Linked DNA regions of Homo sapiens: region 2 is linked to region 1. Evidence: fine-mapped expression QTL. Tissue or cell type: testis. Region 1 holds a variant in brackets; the other region holds the start of a gene. All regions are shown on one strand. Distances are between the middles of the regions.

Evidence for each region. PIP is the estimated chance that this variant, and not a neighbour inherited with it, causes the effect.
Region 2: it holds the start of SH3TC2, and the variant in region 1 is fine-mapped to the expression of SH3TC2 in testis (GTEx, PIP above 0.99).

The regions. Positions count from the first base shown.
Region 1 is chr5:149,135,248-149,145,888 of GRCh38, forward strand. ABLIM3 (actin binding LIM protein family member 3) reads left to right here and starts at 6,246. Exons shown (of 24, transcript NM_014945.5): 1 at 6,246-6,407; 2 at 6,762-6,861. The coding sequence starts at 6,849. LOC124901102 (a long non-coding RNA gene) reads left to right here and starts at 6,869. Exons shown (of 2, transcript XR_007058988.1): 1 at 6,869-7,542; 2 at 8,186-8,351. RefSeq lists a silencer at 6,112-6,361 and enhancers at 6,667-7,168, 7,169-7,668. The variant C/T (reference allele first, on the strand shown) is at 5,859.
Region 2 is chr5:149,058,670-149,067,989 of GRCh38, forward strand. SH3TC2 (SH3 domain and tetratricopeptide repeats 2) reads right to left here and starts at 4,393. Exons shown (of 17, transcript NM_024577.4): 1 at 4,302-4,393. The coding sequence starts at 4,353. It overlaps MIR584 (microRNA 584), which reads right to left and starts at 3,740; the gene lies at 3,644-3,740. It overlaps SH3TC2-DT (SH3TC2 divergent transcript), which reads left to right and starts at 4,648. Exons shown (of 3, transcript NR_122044.1): 1 at 4,648-5,005; 2 at 5,581-5,689. RefSeq lists a silencer at 4,357-4,651.

The DNA.
Region 1 (10,641 bases):
GATGAAAGGGTTTCCTCTTAGACGTAATTCACAAATGGAAACTGAATTGGTCATGGGAATTTCTAAACACTGAGTGGCTGTCGAGAGCCGGGAGACTTGTCTTTATTATTACTGCCATTGTGGACTCACTGCATGATTTTACCCAATTCCTAACTTCTTTGGGACTCTGTACAAGGAGAAACTTAGTTTTGATGAACGCTAAGAACTCTTACAGTTCTTGCCTCCTACAACTCTATGATTTGGGGTATCAAACCTGTGGGGTTCTCTCCCAAGTCGAGGTTTGATTCCCATTCCAAGGTTATAGGGCACTTGCAGGAGGGCATTGCTGTGGGTTGCAACACATCAAGATCACAGTGTTCCACTCCAGGCAGTAGAACGTACTGTACAGAGGTCAATGGGGAAATGACTAGCACACACATAGCCACTGACTTCTGCCTTTCCTTTTCCATGCCCTTTCTGGATATTAGGGGATATGATGTCACCTTGTATAAATGCTGTATAAATGCCTGAACCTGAACCCATAATTTATAATGAGATGTAACCACAACCTACTCTGCACAGACTTTAGTTTACAAAGCACACAGTTTCTCATGACATTCCTTGAACAATCCTGAGATATATTCCATGAAGGGATAATTATAACATATAACAATGTGCAGTGAATATTATTATTCATTACAGCTTAGTAGATTGAAACAAAGAATGAATTGATTGCCCAAGGTCACCTAGCTAGGAAGTGAGGGCAAACTAGAGCCCAGATGTTCTGATTCCCAGTTCTTTTCTCTTGCACAGGGCAACAATGGACTTCACTGTTGTGTGGCTGTGAACCCATTTGTAATTATTAATAACTAGAAGAGACATGCATCCTCAGCAGATTCTAAAGCATTTACTGGAAGACCATATTCAGAGACAGAATTTAGGTCTCAAAGAGCCAAGGAAATAAAGAGGGAAGAGGACCAAACATTGGGGAAGGGGGCATGGGAGTTAATTAGCTGAACTCCAAACTGAAATAAATAAGTCCATGTTGTCTGAAAGGCTTTTACTCCATGGATTAATGAAAGATGCTGTTAGGGATGATTTAGCTAGACTGGTCATGGAAGGGAAGGTTTTCCTAGAGCAGAGGCAACTAAGGTAATATCTAGAGCATAACAAGGTTCCAGCTGTGTAAAGAATCAAAAGAGCAAACCAGGTATAGGAAGCAGTGAGTACAAGGTTCCCAAGATGAACAAATTCACGGGAAGGTCAGCGAATTTCCTCTGCTCAGGAAACCAAAGGGGGATAGGGTAGGGGCATGGGATAGAGTGAGCCTTCTCAATGCTTGACCTGGGTAGTCAGTGCTAGAGGAGCTCTGAGGACAGAGTCAAGAAGATGGAACTTAAAGGAATCTTGAGGAAATAACCAGCTTTATTCAAGGGAAACAGAGGAGGTGGGCACTACAAGCAGGAGAACTGAAGCTGAAGAGAAAATGTGGGTCGATAATGAGTAACCCACAAAACCTGGCAATGGACAAGCTTTCAATGGTCAAGGGAGCTCCCAGGAGCAGAGTGAAGCCCCTCTATGCCTAATCTGTAAAATGGAACGTAGGATAGAATGTTCCCTGACATCTTTTTTAGATGGTTCTACCAATAAAATAAAAAACAGCCCAGAGAAGGTTAGCCAAGGGAATGGCAGCACTGAGTCCAGTTTTCAGATCTCCCAAATTCCTATCCAGAGCTGCCTCCACCTCAGCTCCTTCCTTCTGCTGGAAGAATGACCATCAGGAAGGAGGTTTGGGCTGTGGCCACATGTGAGTGTGAGGCCTCAGAAGAATCCTATGGTGGGGCCATCTGCATGGAGCCCCCCTGGAGCCCATGCTGTAGCCTCCGGCACTCTGATCTCAAAGCCAGTTCCTTTGTTTCCCCAAGAAACTTCCCAAAGATGTTGGGAGCCACTTTGATTTTGGTTTTGTTTTCCTTAACATTTCCCCACAAAACAATGTGAGGAACAAGAGGAAAAGCATGGCCCAGTCACAAAGCTATTTCAACCAGAAAAACAGGTCTAAATCCTATCAATTCTACCTAGGTTTCAGAGATCCCCAAGAGAGGAAAGGGGGACAGAAGCTCAGAGAGCTTCATACAAAGCACCACTCCCTGTGGGAAGTCTGTTCTGTGTTCAGGGCCTGGGGCTCAGCACAAACCAGTGGTGTCCCTTGGGGAACAAAAGTCCCTACCCCAACCGAGAATGTGGTCAGATCTGCCAAACTTCAAACTTGGTTCAACCGCTCTATGCTTAGAACCAAGAACACTAGAGCGAAAGGAACTGAAGAAATTATCCAGTCTAATCCTTCAACAGCATTTGCCATCACATATACAATACCCTAAAGAACATACTGTATCTATTTTCTGTAATTTTCTTTTTATTTAATCACATACTATGAAAACCCTCCCCCACAATTATACATAGATCTTTCTCATGTTGTTAACCATAACATATTATTTTTCAAAACTAAGAAAAGAAATAGTCACCTTTGGTAAGATATTCAGATAGTCTAGGGATGGCAAGTAGAAACTATGAGACTACAAGCACCCTCCCCACCATTCCCACACCTTATAGACTAAAAGGACTTTGTATTCAAGATGAGGGTGAGTGAGCATTTATTTGTAAATGAACAGGAGCAGGATGAGGAGGAGGCAGAGATGCAATGGGACGGGAATGAGAGAAAGGCAACCAGAGAGAAAAGTCAGGGGCCAAGAGTTGCCTTGGTCAATAACAGCAATGGGAGGCAGGGAGCAGAAAGTGAGGAGGAGAGCTTGAGATGACCCCAGTTAGGGACAGGGAGTCAGGAAAGATGGGAGCTCTTTGTGGTGAAGAAGAGCCCAGTAACGGCAGCCCAGCAACAGCCCCTGAGGTGCAAGGCCATGGCCATGGGTGAAGCTGGCCCCAAAACCTTTCCTTTTTCCCCTCAGAGAAGTTGGAAGGTTTGTCTCCCAATGATTTTGCCACATGGTTTTTCAACACCCAGAGCCTTTGCCAGTTTCCCGGTGAGATTTGTTTATCTCCATTCTGGAGTCTTAATGTTCAAAACAAACTTCCAGACAAAGGGATCCTCTGCTCTGTGGTTCTCAGCTCCATTCTCCTGCAAGGACAGAGTCAACAACACCGATCCCCTGATGACTTTCACAGCCATGTCCACAGAGAATCCCACCCCCAGCTTCCTCCTGCGTCTTTCCCGCTGCCTCTGATTGTTGTGGACATCCTCAAGGGCATAGCTTGTATAGCTTATTTTAGCCCCTTTTTTCCTATCCTTATAAACTATGCAGAGAAAATAAGATTGTTCCCCCGGCAGATGTTATTTGGGCCTTAAAAAGTGGCCCAAGACCCAGTGATCTCTTCTAAGAGGTGAAGTCATCAGCATCTAGCTGGATACATTATCGAAAAGAACCCCAGACAAGAAGAATTCATCAATTAATCTCATTAATTGATGAATAATTAATTCATTAATTCATCAATTAATTTATCAATTAATTAATCACCTGAAAATTTTCAGGCATATTTTCGTGGCCACCACTCTGTGGAAAAGCCCAACAGATTTCCATAAGTAGAAAATGACAGCATTGTCACTGAGGGCAGGTATAAGTGAGGGGTGATATTAATAATTAGTATGCAACCAGCCTTTATTTGTCATGCATTACACTAAGTCCTTTAATATATACGACAATCCAAAAGGTAGGCACTGTGGTTGTACCCTTGTACAGATGAAAACTTTGAGGCTTATAGAGGCTAAGTATCTTCCCCAAAGTGAGACAGCTAGAAAGTGATGAAGCTGAGATTAAAAGTCAGGAAGGCTGGAAACGGCACCTGGGCTCTTCCCCAGGCCACCATCGGGTTTAGCTAATTTATATTTTGCTTAGTTAATTGTCTCCCCGCTGTCCCAGGATTGGATTTATGCTTATGAGGTTGGAGTTCTTTTTATTTCTTTATTTTTTATTTTTTCTGCAATCATCCATTATTGGGTAGAGCTCTTGTCTGTCCTGTTCTCCACGGTATCCCCAGAAGCCAGCACTGGGGCTACCACAAAGCATACCCTCGATAAATAATTGCTGAGTGAATGAACTAATGAATGAATATCATGCTTTCATTTGACTATTTCTTATAATTTGAAATTTTCTGAACATTGAGGCCTTGGGTGATAACTAAATATGCTCATGGAATAGAACAGTTAATTTTACATGTCTAATTTATCTGAACTTTCTCCCAGAAAAATGTTTTTCCAAGCATTAGAATCTAGCAAGTTACCTGCAACTTGGAAACTGAACAAGGAATCCCATCTGAAAATGTAGAGGACACATAAAGTGGAATAATTTAAATATTTACTAATCACTTACGTTTTCAAAGCTATTTTAGGCCTCTACCCTTTTCAAAGAGCTGTCTATGAATCACCTGGGATGCTTGTTTCAAATGCTGAGCAAGGGAGTCCAGGGCCTGGGAATCTGCATTTTTGGAGGTATCTCAGGCGTTTGTTATCGACACAAAATTTTAAGAACGACCGTGAGGACATTAGGGCTATTTTTACCTCCACCCCATTGGACAAAATTCTTTTTTAAAAAATTATTATTATACTTTAAGTTCTAGGGTACATGTGCACAACGTGCAGGTTTGTTACCTAGGTATACATGTGCCATGTTGGTTTGCTGCACCCATCAACTCATCATTTACATTAGGTATTTCTCCTAATGCTATCCCTCCCCCAGTCCCCTATCCCACAACAAGCCCCAGTGTGTGATGTTCCCCTCCCTGTGTCCATGTGCTCTTATTGTTCAACTCCCACTTATGAGTGAGAACATGTGGACAAAATTCTTAACAATCTATCAAATGTGTTTCAAATCTATTGATCCTTAGGTTTATCCAAAGATTCTTTAATCCTGATCACCTCTCGGGGTCATGAGCCATATCCTTTTTTTCCTCCCTGTGTAAGGTAGAAACGTTGTATTTATCTAAAAGCATTGTATAAAAACATCGTATTTGTCTTTCCCCAATTTTAATAGGGCAGCTATCTAATCTCACACTGATATCCCAGACTTTAGTGCACTGAGCCACTCTCACACAGGATCAAGCTAGAAGTGAGAAGATCTGGTCCGATTCTGCCACAAGATGCTGTGTGTCTTAGGGCACGTTGCCCAGCCTCTCTGACACCCTGTTTCCTTGTCTAAGCTGGGGCTGTGAGTGTTCACAGCCTTTTGAGTCTGCACATGCTCTAATTGAAGTCATGCTATAGACAAGGATCATGTGCCCTCACAGTCTTGTTTTTCAGCACTCAAAAGTCATGCTTCTATGATCATGAATTAGGTTCAGAAAGTGACAGAGTAAGTAGTCACAGGAATGTAAAGAGCCCTACCCCACTGAATCAATTGTGACTAAAACACTTTGGAATATAAACTTCTACAATACACACGTATAAGACATAATTACAAAAAAAAAAAAAAAAACAACAACAACTTGGGGGAAGAGTTAGTTGACCATATGAAAACTAGGGTGGACCTGTGAGGCCACATACCTGCTGTTCTCCTCAGACGGGGAAGTGTTTCAGGGTGGGGCGCCTAGGCAGTCTACTCTTAGGGCTGTGTAATATTAAACCCAGAAAATGTCTGGGTTGCTCTGTCAACAAATATTTATTGGTAGCCACTATATGCCGGGCCCTGTGCTAGGTATTGGGGGCCTGTAGGTGAACCCTACGGACAGACCCATTCTTTCACGGAGCTAACATTCTCGTGGGGAAAAGAGGTAATAAACAATTCTAATGATGAATCAGCGATAGAGGATAAAGGGAATCTGTGAGGGAAGAGGGGACATAAACGCTGGGAGGCTGGAAGAGCCCCTTA[C/T]GTGTTATCCACTTGTCCAGACGCCATATTCATAGTTGAGAAAGATGAGGCAGAGACGGTAGTGACCGGCTTGAGCCTAGACTGCGCCAAGCTTGCCAGAGCAGAGCCGGGTGGAAACTGTCTTCCTGCAAAGCCAGGTTTTCCTTCACGGCCCCTCCTAATGATGTTTCTTTTCCTATCATTGTCGAGCCCTTAGAACCCCAGGATCGAGGGAGGGAAAACAAGCGCTCAAGCACTCCCTCGTTGGTCCCAGGACACAAGGCCTCGTCCATCTCACAAGGCCTCGTCCATCTCCCATCACACCCTAGGGCCCAGGCAGAAGCCCGGCGGGGCGGGGCCTCGGACACGCGCCGGTGCGTCCAGCAGGTGGCAGCAGCGAGCGGCCGCGCCCCCTGCGCTGCCAACCCGCGAGCCCGCATCATGGATGTCGAGCTCCCCTATTTCGCATTGCTAGCCCTGGAATTCGAGACCCCAGACGAGGACCAGGATTCATGAAATCAGTCGCAGGGGCCGGGGCAGGGGCCTCTGGCTCCCGACACTGGCCGAGAGGTGGGTTCCGGGGCGGGTCGCTGCTCCTTGAAGCCGGGCGGGGACGCGCTGCCCCCGCCCTGCCTCCCTGTGGTCCACACCCCCTTTGGGCTCCGGAGCCGCTGGGCAGGAATAGTCCGGGGTGCGCGCGAGCAGGCGCTGCCAACCCCACTTCTGCCCGGGATTCCAATCTGAGGAGCAGGAGGACCGGGGCGCCGGTGTCCTGCCGCCTCCTTCTCCTTGCTCTCACCTGCGCCTATTAGTCCACGCGCCTTCAAGGCCAGGGGCTACAGCCCAGACAGAGAGGGGACAGCAGAGGGAGAGAGAGCACCTGAGGATACAGAGCTGGCACTGGACTGCCTTTTCACCCCCCAGGTGATGAGTGAGGTTCGAAGAACGGAAGATTTAAAAAGCAGCCGGGGCCTCCGTATTGAATGAAAGACCCAGTGCAAAGACATCACCATGAACACTAGCAGTAAGTGGATCCTCCTCTCCTTTGCCATGGGAACAGGGGTGGGGGCGGGAGGTGAGGGAGCCTGCGCTCGGGCTGCCTGGAAAGAGGAAGGAAGCCTGGCATCTCTGGACACATGACCCCCAGGCTCTTTTTTGGTGCTTTCCGTGCTCCTTGGCAGAGGGATAGCTTCATGACTCTGGCTTTTCGTGATAATTTTGCCAATATTTTATCAGCGGCGCCGGCCGCCTCTCCTGGGAAGGCTGCTCGTCTCCTTCTAGCACTGCCTGGGAAGGCCTAGGAAGCAGTGTGTGGCCATTGTCTGACTGTGGGGGCTCTGAGGAGAACTCCCTGCACACATCTGGAAAACCATGGAGGGCCCTGCCTGTCCCAGAGGTGGGAAGAGCAGGGAGGCTGGCCTGTGGGCAGGCGGGAGGGTAGGTGGGTGTGGGCAGGCAGTGGGCTGGGAAGCCGCAGTTTGATAAACAAATAATCGCCAAGCCACCTTTGGGTCTGGAGATTGTGAAAGATCCAGCTCCCGAGTGCCTGCAGCCCGGTGGGCCCAGGGCTGGTTTCTCTATGTACCTGCAGGCTGGTTAGCTATCCTTGAGAACAAGAAGACAGGAACAGCCCTTTGGCCAAGGGCTCTAACATGCCAGAGGCAACAACTGCTTGCAGAGCCAGGACCAGATATTTTGCTGCCAGGTAGGGCCTCAGCTACTGAGAATGCAGTCCGAAATTCAAGAAGGCACAGTCTGTTTCTCTTCAATGTAGCGCTGTGACCTGGGAGGGCATATCTTGGTTCCAGACTCACTCTCCTGCCCTCTTGTCAGCTTGGCCTGTCTAGGTTATTCCAGCATCGCATAGGGCTGTTGAACCAGAGAACCCCTATGAACAGTCACTTCCCTGGGTCTATGACTTTGTTATCAGTCCCCTCTCTGCATCTCAGACTGCTCATCTGTATGATGAGAGGGGTTGAATTAGAAAGCCTTCTAATCGGCCAGGCACCGTGTTCCATGCCTGTAATCCCAGCACTTTGGGAGGCAGAGGCAGGTGGATCACGAGGTCAGGAGTTCGAGACCAGCCTGACCAACATGATGAAACCCCGTCTCTACTAAAAACACAAAAATTAGCCAGGTGTGGTGGTGTGGGCCTGTAATCCCAGCTACTCAAGAGGCTGAGGCAGGAGAATTGCTTGAACCTGGGAGGCAGAGGTTGCAGTGAGCCGAGATCACACCACTGCACTCCAGCCTGGGCGACAGAGTGAGACTCTGTCTCAAAAAATAATAATAATAATAATAAAAGAAAGCCTTCTAATCTAAGAATCTACACTTTTTTTCTTAAAAAGCTAGAGCTGAGCAACAAGGCCAGAACTATCAAGACCTTATTGAAGCTGTATCCAGCCAAAACCTACTATTTCCTCACACACCCCACCCCACCCCCACCTCCTAGCATGGAAGAGAAAAAAAAAAGCAAAAGCTACTGAGATGAAAATAAAATATATTTATTTACTACGTATTTGTATGATTCATCTCTCTGCTGTCTTCCTTTGTGTATTGCATATCTATGCTAAGCTAGCGAGTGTGGCTGGACTCCCTCTGCCTCTTACAGCCAAAGAATTTTGCCTTTTGATTTTGACAGGCTGGAATGGTGTTTTGGCTTCATACCAGGCTCAGGAAAAGAGGAAAATCCTGTAGCCTCTATCAGCTAGTGGGTCACATGTTTGCATTTGCATGTTTTCAGGCAAATAAAGATGTGAGTTGCCTGTCACTTCTCACTATCTCTAGGAAAAAAAAATGTATTTATGAGAGTCCTTTCCCACTAAGTGACAGAAAAGAAAGATGGCTCATCTATTTTTCAAGGAACTAAGAAAAGAAACAGGCAACTGACTCTGCCCTTTTCTCTCTCTGGAATGCTAAGGAACTCTTGTCCTATTAGTAACACTGAGTATTCCTGAAAGAAGGAAACAGACTATCCTTCTTTTAAGAAAAAGAAAGAAAGAAAAGAAAAAAGAATCAATAGAGTTGGATACTGCAGAATATGAGGACTGGCAAAAATGCCACTACTTTTTATAAGCAGGGAGAGTGTGTGAATTTTGCAGTAATGGAAAATGAACAGAGGAGAATGGCTCAGCAGCCTTGGAAGCCCTCCGGGTTCCCCCCAGGAGGAAGTGCTTCTCTAAACAGACACCTGGGGGACACAGCAAGCACAGAGCTTTGAGGGCTTAACTCCATCATCATGGAGGTACCTCCCAAACCCACGAGTCTGCAAATGCAGAGAGTAGACATCAGACCTCACAAGAAAAGGAGTAACAGAGCCATAGGGTGATATGGATAGGGCATTGGCAGGAGGTCCTTGGGTCACCTGACTAAGCAAAAAAGCTCCCCTTTGAGATGTGAAATTCTTAACTTGATCCTCATGCCTGATATTGTCCCTAATAGAAACTCTTGCTTAGTTTTTCTTTCACTTCTATTTATTTAGTCCTTATTCTCCACCAGCCACCATGCTAAGCACTCCCCTGATTGAGCTCACCAGACTGTCCCACCCAACCTGTGAGATGGGTGTTTTTACTCATTTTATGGGTGAAAATTTGAAGCTGTGTTCAGAAACGTTGTAGTTAATGCTCAGTGGCTTCTTCAAGTCATGCAGTTAATTGTTGGGTTATGAAAGGTACTTGGATGTGTAACACATTTGACACTGAGTACAACTCCTAATCAATGATTCAAATGTCAACACTGAAATAGAGGCAAAGCATGAGATTACAATCATCCCTTTGTACACATGGGGATTGGTAAAACTGTGCATACTAAGTCCTGCAGTCAGCCCTGTGGAACCTGCTTATACAAAGAGTCAGCCCTCAGTGTAGGCAGGTTTCAAATTCTGCAAATACTGTATTTTTTTAAATTTCAACTTTTATTTTAGATTCAGAAGGTACATGTGCAGGTTTTGTTACATGGGTATATTGCATGATGCTGAGCTTTGAGATACACTTGATTCCATGACCCAGGTACTGAGCATAGTACCCAATAGTTAGTTTTTCAACTCTTGCTCTCCTCCCTCCCTTCCCCCTCTAGTAGTGCCCAGTGTCTATTTTTGCCATCTTTATGTCCATGAGTACTTAATGTTTAGCTCCCACTTATAAGTGAGAATATGCAGTATTTGGTTTTATGTTCCTGAATTAATTTGCTTAGGATAATGCCTTACAGTTGCATCTATGTTGCTGCAAAGGACATGATTTTGTCCTTTTTTATGGATGCATAGTATTCCATGGTATAAATGTACTACATTTTCTTTACCCAGTACACTGTTGATAAACACCTAGGTTGATTCCGTATCTTTATTATTGTGAATAGTGCTGCAATGAACATATCAGTGTGTGTATCCTTTTGGCAGGATGACTTATTTTCTTTTGGATATATATCCAGTAATGGGATTGCTAGGTCAAATGGTATTTCTGTTTTAAGTTCTTTGAGAATTCTCCAAATTGCTTTCCACAGTGGCTGAACTAATTTACATTCCCATCAACAATGTAAAAGCATCCCTTTTTCTTTGCAGCCTTGCCAGCATCTGTTGTTTTTTGACTTTTTAATAATTGCCATTCTGACTGGTGTGAGATGGTATCTCATTGTGGTTTGGATTTGCATTTCTCTGATTATTAGTGATGTTGAGCATTTTTATTTTTTCATATTTATTCGCCACGTGTATGTCTTTTTTTTTTTGAGATAAGGTCTGGCTCTGTTGTCCAGGCTGATGTTCAGTGTAACAAACATGGAACACTGTAGGCTCAGCCTCCCAAGCTCAAGC
Region 2 (9,320 bases), 77 kb before region 1:
GTGGGAATGAGCTTTGTACATACATGGGATGCTAGAAGCCAGCCTGCGCATGCTGGGGAGGTGGGTAGTTGTGGGACTAAAATGGATAAGTATGGTAGGTTCAAGATGGCAGAGCACTTTAAGGCAGGCAGGGGTGTTTAGAATGGATACAGTAAGCGATGGTGAGGTGTGAAATATTCTTGAGCATGGCAATGGCATAACAAAAGTGAAAATTCTACTTGGGTAACCTGGGAAGGATAAGGAGAGAAAAGCACAATAGGCAGAGAGACCAGCTGAAGAGGTGCTGTGAAAATCCAGGGAGGTGAGTGTAAGAATGTGGGCTGTGGCCCTGGCAATGAGAAGTGAGGGCATAGAGTGAATGAGGCTATATTTTTAAACAAGAAAAGAGAAGGCATCTTGACATATTGAATATGAGGGATAAACATGGGGAAGAGGCAAGAATTGCAGAAAATGAATGAAGGAAGGGATTTAAAAGATCACCTAGCTCCACTCCCAATTTTACTGTTGAGAAACTAAAGGCCCAGAGAGGAGTCATGATTTTACTGAGATCACACAGCAAATTAACAAAAGCGCCAGAGGCCATCCAAATCAATGGGTAGGAATGGGTAGGGACCTTGCCATTTTCTCTACATTAACCTGACCTCAGAACTCTAAAGTCTCGGGCCTCTGATCAGGGAAACATCTCACAACAACTTGCCGAAAATGAGAATTCACCTTCATTTCTCCTCTCTCAGCCTCTCTTTGCTCCTACCCACCCACCACCATGCTCAACTTTAAAAAGAAGACTAAACAGTAAACATTTATCTGCATGTTTTTTTTTTCCTGTACCCACATTTTCTTTTCTTTTTTGACCTAACAGACCTACCATCAGCAGTTTTTATGATGTAAACCCACTTTCTCCTTGTTGGGACGAATAGCATGTTAGAAGTACAGCTACATCTACCCACATGAATATATCTTAGATGATAATGTTTAGCAAAAAAAAAAAAAAAGTTGCATCATGATATCATTTTGTTTAAGTTTTAAAGTCTGCAAAACAATTCTTTGGAATGATTGTGAGTTCATGAATATGTAGTGAAAGCACATAACCATTGAATTCATGAAAGTTATTAACTACATGGAGAGAGAAGGAGAATGAGATTGGAAAGAGATATCCAGGGGCCCCTAAGTATGTTTATGATGTTTTATTTCTTCAAAAAGTAAGAGAAAGAAAAAGGTAAAGTTCTGAAGATAACATGGCATAATGCAAAAATTTGTTACAGCTAGATGGTGGGCTAACTATTCTAATATCCTCTATTATCAGTAGTTTTAAATGCTTTACAAGTCATTTAAAATTCAAAAGTGAAGCATCATTTACTATTATCAGCATTCACCCTTGATCTCCTGTTATTATACTGATGATTCACATTTATCAAAAAGGTTGAAAGGAAAGTTACAAGCACCAGTGATCAACAGAGGCGAATGTATCTCTTCCACATCTTCTATTTAAGGGCATAAATCTGCCAAATTTCTTCAAACAGGCATTGAAAATAAGGGTGAAGTGCTAGAAGTTTTTTGATCAACAAACTTTGACATGGCTTTCTCTGTGATCCAAAGTGAGCAACTGTAGCTTATTAAGCAATGGCAAGAAACAACTCATAGATAGGGTGGGGAAGTCAGAGATGATAGCAACTGATCAGAACCTATCCTCTCACCATGTGCAGTCCCCCCTGATTAGGGGAGTTCTGTGAGCAGTTGAGAGCCATCCCAGGGAACAGATGCTGCAGGCAGAGTCCACATGTAAGAATGCAGGTGCCTGGAGTAGTCAGAGTCAACGTTCATTATTGTGTCACTCCACACAAACTAGTCTGGCAGCTGTCCAGTGCTCAGTGCTATCAAGAGCCTTCTCCTTTCCTGTGTCCATTAGCCCTGAGGACTCACTGTTTTGGTGTCTGCTGTTAACTCTCACTTAAACAGACACAAGGCAGAAGCACCCCAGGAAACATAAGTACAGACTTCTCCAGACCAGTAAGGAATTAGGAGGAAGTGATGTAGGAGTGGCCCATATTAACTAACGATAAAACAGCCTGTAGTTACTGAAGGGTTATCAAAAGCCAGACCTTGTGCTAAGTCCATGAGAGGAATTATTAAATTTAATCCTCACAAAAGTTCCATGGGATAAGTACCACCATTAGATACAGTTTACAGCCAGGAAAACTGAGGTTCAAAAAACATGAGGGACTTGCCCAAGGTCACACAACTATTAAGTTGCTCCAGGATGGGTCTCATACTTTGTTCCTTTTCTCTAGGATAAATAGGGGAATCTGGAATGGGAATATCCAGATCGACTGGACTTGGACCTACAACACCAATATCAACCTCGCTAGGGAAAGGCCCTGACACATACAGGGAATAATATGGGGGAATGGCATGAAAAGTCTCGAGGGAGATACATAGCAGGCTAACTCTTGGTGAAAAGGTGAATGCGGGGTGCCAGCCAGTAATCAATGGCAAAAAGAAGGTGAAAGAATAAAGTAATTGAATGATAGTGTTATTATGATTTTGACCTTTTTCAATATTTTGTTTGTTTGTTTGTTTGTTTTCAGCTGCGTAACTCTGTTCTACAGGAAATCTTTGGCTGAAGGACGATGTCAACTAGAAGCAGAGCCGCTCTAGGTAGGAATGAGGGAACATGAGCAGAGCTCTCTGAGGCACCTCTACACAGCAGTTTACAACCCTAAAATTGTATATATGATTAAATGGAGGCCCAGGGAGAGCGCGAGTTATACTGGGGTCATCAAAATGGAATTAACAATGGTGAATTTTATTGTGCTCAACTAACTGTGCACCAGACTGTTTCACCATTTCACATGTAGACTTAATCTCCACCACAGCTCTATGAAGAAGACATAATCATGTCATAAAAGCTACAGATAAGGAAACTGAAACACAGAGAAGTTAAATAAGTTGTCGAGGCAAGTAAAAGAACCAAGATAAAATCCAGACACTTTGGCCTCAAAGACCAAGTGAGTAGCCAAGATGACAACTGCATAACTAGAGCTAGAGGAAGTCAGATCTAGAACCCCGATCTCCGACCAGTGGTCCTGCACGTCTCCCTCCATGCTGTTTCTACTCTCATGGGGCACAATGACAATAGGACTTAGGGGGAGGGACTGAAAAGTGTTTACATCTGAGAAATCTGGAGAAGCGAAATTGTTCATAGCTAAAGTCGTGCCTTTTGTGCCAAGGGCATCATTTGGGGGGACACTCCCTGCTGTAGGTGCCAAGGTGCCTAGATCAAGACTTCAAGCAGAGGAAGCAGAATATGGTTGTTTTGGGTTCACTTTAATGACCTCAAGTGCCTTCTACAAGCCCAAGTCATAAGACTAAAGAAGAAAGTTGTCTGTCAGAGAGTAGAAAGCCCTCAGCTAGGGGATGCTCCTTAGCTCCTTCTCTCAGGAACCATGGTGGAGCTCCAGGAAGACACAGAGTTCTAACAAGGGTTAGGAATGATTCCTTGGAGCAATGTTCCCCTATCTCCCAAGCAAGCCTCCCCCCACCAATCTAACCCCACATTTCCCCAAAGCCACCACTCATCCTGATAAACACCACACAAGAGAACACAGGGCCCTACCTTGATTCTCCTCTGAAAAAAAGCAAGAAGGTTGCTTCAGGGAGACCAACCAGCCTGGTTGGCCTGGAACTGACATATCCCAGCAAATTCCTCAGTCCCAGGCAAACCATAATGGCTGGTCACCCTAAGTCACTCTCCCATGAGTTGACAATTTCTTAGAGCAACAACTCTCCATTGCCTCAACTTGATGCACACACTCACACATGCACTCACACACAAATCACTCTGTAATAGGTGGAGGCAGGAAACTGCCTGTTTTTCTCCAGTAACAGCAACCCTGACAAAAATAGGCTTGAATGACTAAGGCCAAGTTTATGGCCACCCATAGGCCACAGAGGAACTCACTGCCTGAACTTTCTTCCTGTCCTGGGGGGATCTCGGGAAGAAAGGAAGGAAGGGCTTAGTCACACCCTGGGAGTGGCAGCCAGGAGCAGTGCTGCTCAGCTCCTGACAGAGTAAACTCAAAGGCTCTTTCTTCAGGAAAAAATAGATGCTTCCAGGCTTTGCTCCCTTTTTACAGAGCCAGCATGACAAACACTTACCCAGGGAGGAAGGAGAGGCAGCCAGAAAGCACAATCATCTCCCCATCTTTGGGAGAAAAGTTTCTCCAACCCAGCAGGTCCCTGAGCCTCTACTGGACCATCCACTTTGGCCAAGCCACAGGCCAAGGGCCCCCTGGGAAACTCACCTGGGCCCCGGGTCAGACTCCGCTCCCTGGGGATGCAGAAGCAGCCACCCATGTGTGTACCATCCTACCCTGGCCGAGGCCCTTGGGAACACAGGCCAGAAGAGTGCTGCAAGGGACAGCCTCCCAACGGTGTCCCTCCTCCCGCCTCCTCCCTGGCACACGAGGGACCGAGGCCTGCTCAATGCACAATGCAGCCTTTGATATCCCGGCTACAGCAGGAGGCCCAGGGAGGGTGGGAGGGGCAGCCCAGCCCAGCCTGCAGGCCCACAGCTCCTGCACTGTCAGGCCTGGGGAACAGGGCTCCTCCCTGCCTCTCAGCAGATCGCTTCATGCCTATCAGCCTGCAGCACATTCCTCGCATTCTAGGATTGAGATACACAGTTTGGTTCTTGTGAGGGCAGCCAGGGCTGGGGAGGAGGGCAGAGAACATCCCAGAGATCAAGACTGCTCTTCTTGCTCCCTCCCCGACTGACTTGGCCCACACTGACTGGCCTGCCACCCCTTTACAGTGATCTCCACCCAGTCTCTCTCTGCAAAGGCCTCCCTTGGCTCTCTGATAAAGTTGGAGCTGTGGGTGCAGCATTTCACTTGGACCTAGCAGCATCAATGAGCCAGCTCCTCACTGGGGAACATGCAAACCCCCAGCTGCTGGTGTGCAGGAAAAGAATCCAGGAGATCACCTGATGAAGCCCAGCATTTTACAGGTGAGGGGATGGAGAACCAAATACATCAAAGGATGGGGAGAGGTTGGTCAATAGGTAAAAGGTTAGAGTTACATAGGAGGAGTAAGTTCTAGTGTTCTATTGCACAGTAGGGGGACTACAGTTAATAACGTATTGTATATTTCAACATAGAAGAGAGGATTTTGAATGTTCTCACCACAAAAAAACAATGATGTTTGAGATGATGGATATGATAATTACCTTGATTTGTTCATTACACAATACATAGATATATTGAAACATCACATTCTAGCCCATAAATGTGTAGAATTATTATGTGTCAATTAAAAATAAAACTAAAAGAAAAAATACAGCAAGTCTACAGGTATGCAAGCAAAACTGGTCCCACAAGACTAACCTCTTTCCTGTTTCAGATAGGCAGTGGAGCAGGGGAATCCAGTTGACACTGTGGCTAAATTTCAGAAAACCTCCCATGAGATCTTGCAAAGGAGATGGAGAAAATATGGCTGAATGCCAGCAAGGTAGGACGGAAGCATGACTGCTCTAACAACCAAGCTCAAAGAGCACTGCTCACCCAATGTTTCCTTCATGACTAGAGCAAAGTGGTGAAAGGACCCTGGTGAGAGGCCCAAAGAACAGGAGGTGTGAGCCAAGAGAAGGTCCTGCCAGGCCTATGTTGCAGGCTATTTGGAGGCTGAACTTGAGGTCAGTATCACCAGCATTTTTAGGACGGCAGTGGCCTGATCAAGTTTATATTCTGAGAGGAGCACTTGGGTGACCAGGTGAAGAATGGCCTAGGGGTCAGTCCCACCAGAGATCAGGAGTATCCACCTCACACACCAGCCTAGCCCCAGAGGACAGGGTCTTGAGCCTGTCTCTGAAGCACTGCTCCCGTCTCCATCCTGACTCATCCTGAGACACAGTTACTGAATGTTTACTGTGGGCCAGGCTCTCACTGTACATTATTCTATTCAAATCCCATAACAGCCCCATAATGTAGGCATCATTTCTACTTTGTAAGTGAGGAAACGGATAAAGAGGAGTGTATAACTTGTCCAACTCCCTCCCTTCTCCCACCATTTATGAATGTCAGAGTCAAGACTGAGCAAGGTCTAGTTGATTCCACAGCCCAGAAGAATCACGTTTCTGATACATGGGATACATTGTGGGTTCTCCCATGACTACTAGGACACACAATGAGAAAGGCCTAGGAAGGACTGAAACCTCTGGAGCCAGCTAACCATTTACACAAAGCCCAGGAGATGAGAGCTGGGGCAGGGAGTAGAGCGCAGGAGGGATGGGGTCTCTCTGATCACATTGCCACCGGGGAGGATGTTTTCTCTGTGCAGGTCTATTTAAAGTATCTACTTCCCATACGTTTCTCATGTGTTTCCCTTACTGAAGTACAGTGTTTTTGAATATGAATTCAAATGTTTTCTTGGGCCCACAATGAAAGGACAAGAGTTTCTTTAGAAAACAGCCACTTAAAACTGGGATGTACTTGAAAGTCAGGCAGTGACAAGAAGCCCCATGCTCTAACTTACACACGCTGACAGATGCGCAGACTTATCATTGCTCCTTGGCTGGTCTGCACACCAACCACTCTTACACAGGTACAACAACAATCAGACTATAAATGATCAAAATCAACTATTGAAAGGATCCCAGGCCATGTGTCAGAGATGACACCCTAGGCAGTTGGCTAACACACACATTGCAGCAGGTCTTAAATGAATAGTCCATTCTGGATAAAGTCATTGCTTCCCTTGAGATGCAAGAAACTGTGCTGTTCTGCTCCTGGGTAGCCTGATGAATTGACTAGAGCAAAGAGACTTCCAGCAGGAGCAAAGGCCCTGAAGTAGGAACTTGCTTAGCATGTTAAAGGAAGTGTGGCTGAAGGCTAGTGAGGTAGGTGAGGGCACAGAGATGAAGTCAGAGAAAGCAGCAGGAGACCAAACAGTGTAGGGCCTTAGAGGTCATCTAAGGACTCCAGTTTTTACTCTGAATGAGGTAAGAGCCAATGGAGGACACTAAAGAGAAGAGTAACATGCATGACTTACGGTTTTAAAGGGTCAGCCTGGCTCATGGGCTATAGATGGAACTCCAGATATGCAGCAATTGTAACATCCAGCAGAGAGATGATAATGTCTTGAACCAAAGTGCTATTGGTAGAGGTGATGAAAAGGGTTTAGGTATTAGACACATTTTGAAATAAGGGTGTATTAGTCAAGGTACTCCAGAGAAACAGGACCAATAAAAGTTGAGAAAAAAAAAAATTAACAAATTGGCTCCTGTGAGGGTTGGCAAATCTGAAATCCATAGGGCAGGCCAGCAGTCTGGAGACTCAAGTAAGAGTTGCTATTGCAGTCTTTAGTCAAAATTCCACAGAGCAGCAGACTAGAGACTCATATAAGTTTCCCATGTTGCAGTCAAGAATTCTTGAGAAGAATTTCTTCTTTTTCAGGAAACTTCAGTCTTCAGTCTTAAGGCCTTCAACTGATTGGAAGGCCCCCAGTCAGCTAGTGGGAAGACCCATGCACATTAGAGAGGGTAATCTGCTTTGTTCACTGTCTACTGATGTCAATGTTAATTATCTTTAAAAAAAAATACCTTCAACATCTATTTTGTTCTTTGGTCAAACAACTGGCCACCATAACCTAGCCAAGAGAACACATGAAATTAACCATCACAGAGACCCATGAGGATGTGTTGATACATTGAATGTATGAGAGGAAAAAAAAAAATCTACTTTAGAGTAGTTCTGATTTTTTTTATCTGAACAACTGAAATAATTTAATAATTATTGAAATGTTAAATGCTAGGAGAAAAGAAGCTTTGTGAATTGAAACCAGGAGTTTGGTTTTGTATATGTAATATTTAATAGTCCTTTAGTATATCCAAGCAAATGTAGACAAAGCAATCTGGAGTTCATGGAGAAGTTAAAAGCTGAAGGTAAGTATTTGGGAGTTGTCACTGTGTAGAGGGTATGTAAAGTTAGAAGACCAAGCAAGATCTCTTAAGGCAGAAAGTGGAGGATAGAATACAGAGGATATATCAAGAATGAGCCCTACAAGCACATTAATTTTTATATGAATAAGAAAGGAGTAGAAACCAGCAAAAGCGATAGAGAAATAGTGGCCAGTGAGACGATATGCACCAAGAGCATAAGATGGTACAGAATTCAAGTGAAGAAAGTGTTTCAAGAGCAGAAGGTGATTAACTATGTCAAATGCTGCTAATAAGTAAGATGTGCACAGAGAATTTACCACTGGACATCTTGGTGGAGCAGTGGAGATAAAAGCTAGATTGAGAAAGCTTCAAGAGTATACGGTAAAAAAAAAAAAAAAGTGGAGCTCCAACCCACCTTCAACTCACCACCATCACCATCATTGCCATCATTATGGAATACCTGTTATTCCCTTAATATTTGTTTGGTGTTCAGGGGTTACAAGCTCATATGGCTACAAGAGCCACGCAGCTGATAGAAATGAGTGAACTGGCCAGGAGATAAGTGGCAGCTGATCCCACTGTAATTGCCTAATGGATTCTTTCTGCCTGCTGCACAGACAAAACCAGTTCACTGAGACTGGTATTGCAGCAGAGAAAACCTTTCATTAATGTGAGGCCAGCCATGCAGAACAACCAGGGTTATCACTCCAGTCAATCTCCCTGAAGACTCAGAGTTTAGGGTTTTTCAAGGATAGTTTGGTGGGCAGGCAGGGAGGGGTTGGGTGCTGCTGATTGGTTGGGGGTGCAATCATAGGAATGTGGAAAATAGTCCTCATGCACTGAGTTTGTTTCTAGATGGGAAACACAGGACAGGTGAAGTCATGAGTAATGAGTCTGGGTGGGCTCAGTCAGTTGCCAGAATGTAAAAGTCTGAAAGACATCTCAAAAGACCAATTTTAGGTTCTACAATAGTGGTGTTACCTACAGAAGCAATTGGGGAAGTCACAAATCTTGTGACCTCTGACCACATGACTCCTGAACAATAAGGGATTATAGAAACTATATCTACATTTTAGCAGAATTCAGGTCCCTCCCATAATCTTAATCTTATGGCTTTTCATTAGCCTTACAAAGGCAGTTTCAGCCCCCAAACAACAAGGGAATTCGTTTTAGAGAGGGACTGTTATCATCCTTGCTTCAAAGTTAGACTACAAACTAAGTTCCTCCCATGGTTAGCTTGGCCTACACCTAGGGATGAGCAAAGACAGCCAGCCTGTGAGGCTAGAAGCAAGATGAAATCAGTCACATTAAACTCCTCTCACTGTCATAATCTTTGCAAAAGAAGTTTCACTGGTGTCAAGGTTGGGGCAACAACAGGGAGAGGTGT